Homo sapiens: one gene and its partner. The protein of the gene in region 1 purifies or fractionates together with the protein of each later gene. This does not show direct contact. Each region holds a gene or a part of one and is shown in the gene's direction. Other genes may lie near its edges.

Region 1 (3,524 bases):
ACGCACCTGTAATCCCAGCTACTCCAGAGGCTGAGGCAGAGAATTGCTTAAACCTGGAGGGGCAGAGCTTGCAGTGAGCCAAGATCGCGCCACTGCACTCCAGCCTGGGCGACAGAGTGAGACTGTCACCAAAAAAAAAAAAAAAAAAAAAGGAATCATTTGAGTGAAAGATAGTTTCTTGAAGATGGTCAGTGGATGATTGAGGTTTGGGAATCATGGGCCTCTGGCCCTAGTTGGATTTGAGCAGTGCCTTTAGGGTAGATAGGACTTAAAAAGACAGAAAGGGACAGGCTTTGCCTTACCATGGGTACTTTTACATATGCTCTTTGGGTAATTTTTTTCTTACTCTTTCTTTATTTTTTTTTAATTTATTTTTTATTTTTGAGACGGAGTCTTGCTGTGTCGCCCAGGCTGGAGTGCAGTGGCGCCATCTCGGCTCACTGCAAGCTCTGCCTCCCGGGTTCACACCATTCTCCTGCCTCCGCCTCTGGAGTAGCTGGGACTACAGGCACCCACCACCACGCCCACCTAATTTTTTTGTATTTTTAGTAGAGACGGGGTTTCACCGTGTTAGCCAGGATGGTCTCAATCTCTTGACCTCATGATCTGCCCGCCTTGGCCTCCCAAAGTGCTGGGATTACAGGCGTGAGCCACTGCGCCCGGCCTCTGGTCACAGTTTTTTAGAGATTGTTTGGAACAGTGAGTAGAAGGCCTTGTCTGTACAAGATACACAGCTGAGTGAGATTGTTAATCTGTCAAAGGGCAAAATTCAAAACTTTCGACAGTCTGGAAGGCTGGGATGAATGCATTAAGATGTAATTCGACTGATATAAATTTAGATTTAAAACAACCTTCTATAGTAGTTTGGCTGGGGGAGACAGACATGGTAGAAACTCACAGGAAAAGGACTTTGTTATTTTACATTACATAGAGGCTAGATGCTCATCTTCTCTTGGGTATATGAAAGCTGTTGATTTGCATACTTTGATTTTCTATCCTGCCGCCTAACTGATTTCTTTTTCTGTTTGCATTAGTTTTTCATTGATTCTTTAGGGTTGCCAGGCGTACTGTCCTATCAACTGCAAATAGAAATGACTTCTTTCCCGGTTTTTATGCTCTCATTCTTTACTCTGTCTAACTGCCTGGGCTAACACCTCCAGTTCTGTGTGAAGTAATAGAGTGGGCAGCCTTGCTATGGCCCTGATCATTTGTTGTTGTTTTGTTTTTTTTTTTTGAGAGGGAGCCTCACTCTGTCTCCCAGGCTGGAGTGCAGTGGCGTGATCTCGGCTCACTGCACGCTCTGCCTCCCGGGTTCCAGCGATTCTCCTTCCTCAGCTTCCCGATAGTAGATGGGACTACAGGCGTCTGCCACCACGCCCGGCTAATTTTTTGTATTTTTAGTAGAGACGGGGTTTTGCTGTGTTAGCCAGGATGGTCTCGATCTCCTGACCTCGTGATTCGCCGGTCTCGGCCTCCTAAAGTGCTCAGATTGCAGGTGTGAGCCACCGTGCCCAGCCTAATTTTTTGTATTTTTAGTAGAGACGGGTTTTCACCATGTTAGCCAGGATGGTCTCAATCTCTTGACCTCGTGATCTGCCCGCCTCAGCCTCCCAAGGTGCTGGGATTACAGATGTGGGCCACCATGCCCAGCCCTATGGCCCTGATCTTAATGAAGTGTTCCCCACTGAGTAAGTTGCCAGCATTAGGGCTGAAGTATACAGAGTAGCATGTTCAGAAAGGAGCCATCAGTTTCTGTTTTCTGGAGTGTTTTTACCAAGAATGGACCAAGACTCCTTAGATAAACAATAGCACTAGTGTCCATACTTACTGACCCAAACACCATTTGCCAGTTTATAAAATAATAAATTCCAGAAATATTACTGCCTCAACATTATGAAAATCAGATTTCCTAAAAAAGTACTTAGCAGTGTTGAAATATCTAGACACTATTCACGGGTACTTAATGAACAAGGCACGTGCTCAGTAGATTGATTGCCGTCAGACACACAGTTTTTCTCATTTGGGAAAGTTAGTTATTCCCACATCAGCCAAATACAGCACAGCATACAGTGGTCAGTAGATCATCAGCTTACTCCTGGTCTCCTGTTGTGAAACGCTCTCAGATGAATTGTTCTTGTGCCATGACACACCAACGTGGCAAGTTCCTCAGTTGCCTGTTTGAGCTTGTTTCTTTCTTTACTTGTGGAAGACAATTTCACTGGCGTTTTTTGTTTTTGTTTTTGTTTTTTGAGACGGAGTCTCGCTCTGTCATCCAGGCTGGAGTGCAGTGGCGTGTGCGATCTCGGCTCTCTGCAACCTCCACCTCCTGGGTTCAAGCAATTCTTCTGCCTCAGCCTTCCGAGTAGCTGAGACTACAGGCGCTTGCCACCACACCCGGTTAATTTTTGTATTTTTAGTAGAGACAGGGTTTCACCATATTGGCCAGGCTGGTCTTGAACTCCTGACTTGGTGATCCACCCACCTCGGCCTCCCAAAGTGCTGGGATTACAGGATTGATCCACCGTGCCTGGCCTCACTGGCCTTTTTTAATAGTGTATGTCTAATGTGGAACAGACCCATAAGTTGCTTGGGTCTTATTTATTTGGCTGGGAAACTATGGATTTTTTTAGAAAGATTCAAGTCCTTGGAAGCCTGTGTCTGTCCCTTATGGGAATTAGATACTGGCAGAGGAGGTAACTGTGATTACAGCATCGAAGACAGGTTTTGCATTGTGGTGACACATTTGTGTTAATATTATTCATCTCATATGAGAGGATGAGTTCATCTTAATCTCATTTTTAATCACAGCCTTCTAGAAAATAGAAATATCTTTTCCTCCCATGCTTTAAAACACCTGTGGCACTTTGGGGTGCTAAATATTGACTTCTTTGGCCATCTTTTCAGGAGGAAGACATGGGATACTCCTGACTGGGTAGATGCTTTTGTATTTCTGCTTAACCTCATAATTAATTTCATTCCAGCTGGTGGCAGGAGACAGACTAGAAAAGGAGCTACCTTTGGAAGTATATTTGCCTGGTTATAGGAGACTTTTGTGAGCTCGCTGGAAATGAAAATATACTAAGCAGATCTAAGACATAGGGGATAATTGGCAACATTTATCAGTTACCTGAAGAATACTTAATTCACTGGTTATTAACTCATTCCCATGGCCCAGAGGCCTTGCACTGCCCTCCCCCCCAGGCACATACGTGCACACATATTTGCAAACACGGCATGGAGCGTCTTTCCCCTGTGCTCACTAGAGAGGCCACACCAGCCTTCTCGTGCTTCCGTAAACCTGACATGCTTTTTTCCATCTTAGGGTCTTTTTACGTTCCGCTCCCTCTGCCTGGAAGCCTCCTTCTCTGCCTTCTAGAAGGTCACTGCCCCATAGTCATTCAGGTCTGGCTCAGACGTCACCTCCCCAGAGAGGTCTGCTTTTCTGACCACTTCATCTAGAGGCCCCCACCGCCCATCACGCTGTGTCCCATTACCATGGTGTGTTTTCTTCCTAGCACGTAGCG
Region 2 (3,524 bases), on another chromosome or scaffold:
CAGACAACCATGCATATTCAAAAAATATAATCTAGCTCAGGATTTTCCAGTTTTGTCCAGACTGTGTCTGGACATGAACACAGTTGAGAGGGTTATGCCCCCTCCTCACAATTGACTAGTCATCTATCTGCCTAACCATCTGCTCATGTAATTTTCTACTCTGTTTTACATATAGGTTTTTCTGTTACTATGGTTCCTATAAACAAACAAATATACCAAACAAGTTACGTTACCATGGTTTCTACAAACAAGTATAACACAAGTAGAGCACTTTCTGCTTTAGAGAGTATGAGTTTTTAAAAATTGGGTGATACTAACAGGTCGAGCAGAATCTCTCTGCTGACATTGGAGTAGTCAGAGGTTTCCCTCCACAGAAATCAACACTGACAGGGACAGTAAAATACCATATAGCATCATGATATATTAGGCTTATGATTTGTGCACTAAGGAACATTCATATTTAATAGCCATTTATTGTTTACCTAATTATGGTATGTCAGGAACAGGTTAGGTGTTTTTACATACATTATTTCAATTTGCCTCAAAACCCTTCAGGCACAGGGATCAGTGTCCAATTAGACTGAGACACCAAACTTGCATTAAAATACACAGCAAATGTAGCAAAATAGGAATTTGAACCCATTTCTTTGAATGCCAAGTTGTTTTTTAACTGGATTGTAAACTCTTTAAGATGGGAAATTTAACATCTGAAAGACTTCTAAGGTGCTAGGTTCTCTGTTTTGCGTTTTCGCAAACAATGTGGCTCTCACATAAGGATAGGCACATTGCAACTTATTAAATATTTAAATTGGGCATGATGGTGTGCACCTGTAGTCCCAGCTACTTGGGAGGATTGCCTGAGCCCAGGAGCTCAAGGCTGCAGTGAGCTATGGATGTGCCAGTGCACTCCCGCCTGGTGACAGAGTGAGATCCCATCTTTAAAAAAATAAATAAATATTTTTTGTTTAACATGGGATATAAATTAGAGAACGAAAGTTATCCTTAAAGGAAAGGGGGCAGATGGGAGAGTTACTAATTTGAGAATTATTAGCTGTACACATTTTAACCTTTCTCCCTTCCATATGTCTTTACAGTCCCAGAATAAGTGGGTGAGTAAACAGATAAGTCATGTCCAGGATGGAAGGAAAGAGGCTAGCTTGGTATGTGAGAAGAGGTACATGGCTGAGAAATTGGAGAAGGGACCACAGAATGTCCTATCTTTGTGGTTGTGACATTCTACTTATTATACCTGAGGTTCCTTAAGAATTGAGATTGAGAATCCCAGAGAAAAGTCAGTCTGAGATTACTAATGTATTGAATGATCTAGGTACTTATACTTCATACAAGGATAGAGTGAGGCAGAATCCATCAAGAAAAGCTTAAGCTTATTGTGGCATGGGCTTCTGCTTTTGCTGCCATCTTGCCAGAACAATTATTCCCAGCTAATACAGATGTCACTGAAAATGGAGCTGACTGTGTGACTCCTTTCAGTGTCCAGCAGGTTCAGCTACATGGAATAAATCAGTACCTACGTCTAGTACTTAGCATCTGCGGTGAAAAGCATGGTAGGAGGGCTGCATAGACCCTGTGATGCTTCCACTGCATCTGTGTCTGCCTCCTCTCAGCTGAGCAGGGTTCTTGTCCTCTAATCTGTTTCTTTCCTGTTGTCCTTGTCCATCCAAGGACAGGCCCTGTGCCTCAGACTCTGTTTAGCACATAGTGATGCGCAGCACATCCTGTTAACTCGTAAGATGCTGTTCATTGCTTTTGGTCTGAACACTGCAGGGCTCGCCATTCACTGTGATGGTGAGGAGAAAGCACCGCCCACACTCAGGCGTGTTTCACTGCTGCACCTTCTGCTCCAGCGGGGGCCAGAAAACCGCTCGCTGCGCCTGTGGAGGCACCATGCCAGGTAAGGAGAAAGCACTACCCTCTGGGCCTTTCTGCCAGCAGTGGGAATCAAGCGACGGGCCCTTCCCTACCACACAGCCACTAGACATTTGGACTTAGGCTCTGTTTCTAGGAAGCACAGTCTGTGATTGTAGAGACACCACTGTTCTAAAAGTGTCACTTAAAGCTTCCTTGTTCTGAATTGAAATAGCAGACTTAAAAGCTCTCAGTTCTGTTAGTTTTGGTACAGCTCCTATGAGCCCTGTGCTTCTATGTAGGATTCTCAGTTTGTCTGTCCCTTTCCAGCGGCCTAAGCAGTGTGAAAACTATGGACCCATCTTATTCCTTTTAGAACCTTAAATAAATTCCAAATGAGGCATGGCTAGGGGAGTGGATGATTAAACCAATTGAACAAGGTCTGGGTCTTTCGGGGGACAGAAAGGATAGGGAGTCAGTTTAGGTTAGGGATCTAATTACTTTAAAAAAAAATTATTGTGTCCTTACTCTAATAATGGGCCATAAAATGGGCTTTTGCATCCTTCTGTATAAACACTTGAGGATCTACCTCTATTTTTTTAATGTCCACCAACCTATCCTTTTTTATTTCAATGATTTTACAGTTAAAATCCAAACCAATTTATTTTACAGTTAATGTGCAAACTAGTTCGCCTCCTTCAGGTGGTAAGTTCTATCACTACAGCATTCTTAGAACTCCGGCTAACATGAGTTGATTTGCTGTGATCAATTCTCAGGGTCCTCCTGACTGCACAACAGTCAGACAGCTTGTTCCTCTTGCCAAGATTTTCTTAGATATTTTCACTCCCATGAATCTGCATGTTGCCAGGAGGTCTAATTTCCATGATAATGGTAACTGCTGGCCTCCACGCTAATGGTTGATTTTTGTCCTTTCCTCTTTGTCCCATGTAGGTGGGTACCTAGGCTGTGGCCATGGACACAAAGGCCACCCAGGTCATCCCCACTGGTCATGCTGTGGAAAATTTAATGAGAAATCTGAATGCACATGGACAGGTGGGCAGAGCGCACCGAGGAGTCTACTTAGGACTGTGGCTCTCTGATGGGTTTGTGCTCAGCCTTTTAAAGCTGCAGGCAGCACCACTTGAGATTTCCAGAGGACCCAGACCTTCGTTCATTCTAAAGAGACTGATAGAATTAAAAACAAAGTGCCTTATCTTGCACTGGAGTTCAAGTGCTCTTTTGTTAGTTATTCACTGATTGTACTTGTGGATGGTTGAGCACAAAAAACCACCTCTACATTTCTCTTAAAGGTAGGTTGGCAACGTTCTTTTTCTACCACAGGATACTCCTTTTCATTTTGTACAGTATGGAGGTATCTATTCCATTGGCACTGAAGGGTCTAGGTAGTTTAGTTCCTTTCTGATATAACCCTTTTTTTTTCTTTTTTTTTTTTTTTTAAAGACAGAGTCTCACTCTGTCACCCAGGCTGGAGTGCAGTGGCATGATCTCGGCTCACTGCAACCTCTGCCTCCCGGTTCAAATGATTCTCGTGCCTTGGTGTCCCGAGTAGCTGGGATTACAGGTTCCCCCCCACCTTCCCCCACACCCAGCTAATTTTTGTGTTTTTAGTAGAGACGGGGTTTCACCATGTTGGCCAG

Evidence for each region.
Region 2: the proteins of TAB1 (region 1) and TRIM45 purify together in Homo sapiens (affinity purification with western blotting, with the first as the bait; one study listed by BioGRID). This does not show direct contact.

What each region holds. Positions count from the first base shown.
Region 1 is NC_000022.11:39,406,268-39,409,791, forward strand, and holds part of TAB1 (TGF-beta-activated kinase 1 and MAP3K7-binding protein 1), read left to right. Parts: intron 1-3,524. UniProt on the Homo sapiens protein: Key adapter protein that plays an essential role in JNK and NF-kappa-B activation and proinflammatory cytokines production in response to stimulation with TLRs and cytokines.
Region 2 is NC_000001.11:117,111,747-117,115,270, reverse strand, and holds part of TRIM45 (E3 ubiquitin-protein ligase TRIM45), read left to right. Parts: intron 1-1,785; coding exon 1,786-1,912; intron 1,913-2,817; coding exon 2,818-2,966; 3' UTR 2,967-3,524. UniProt on the Homo sapiens protein: E3 ubiquitin-protein ligase that plays a role in the regulation of inflammatory response.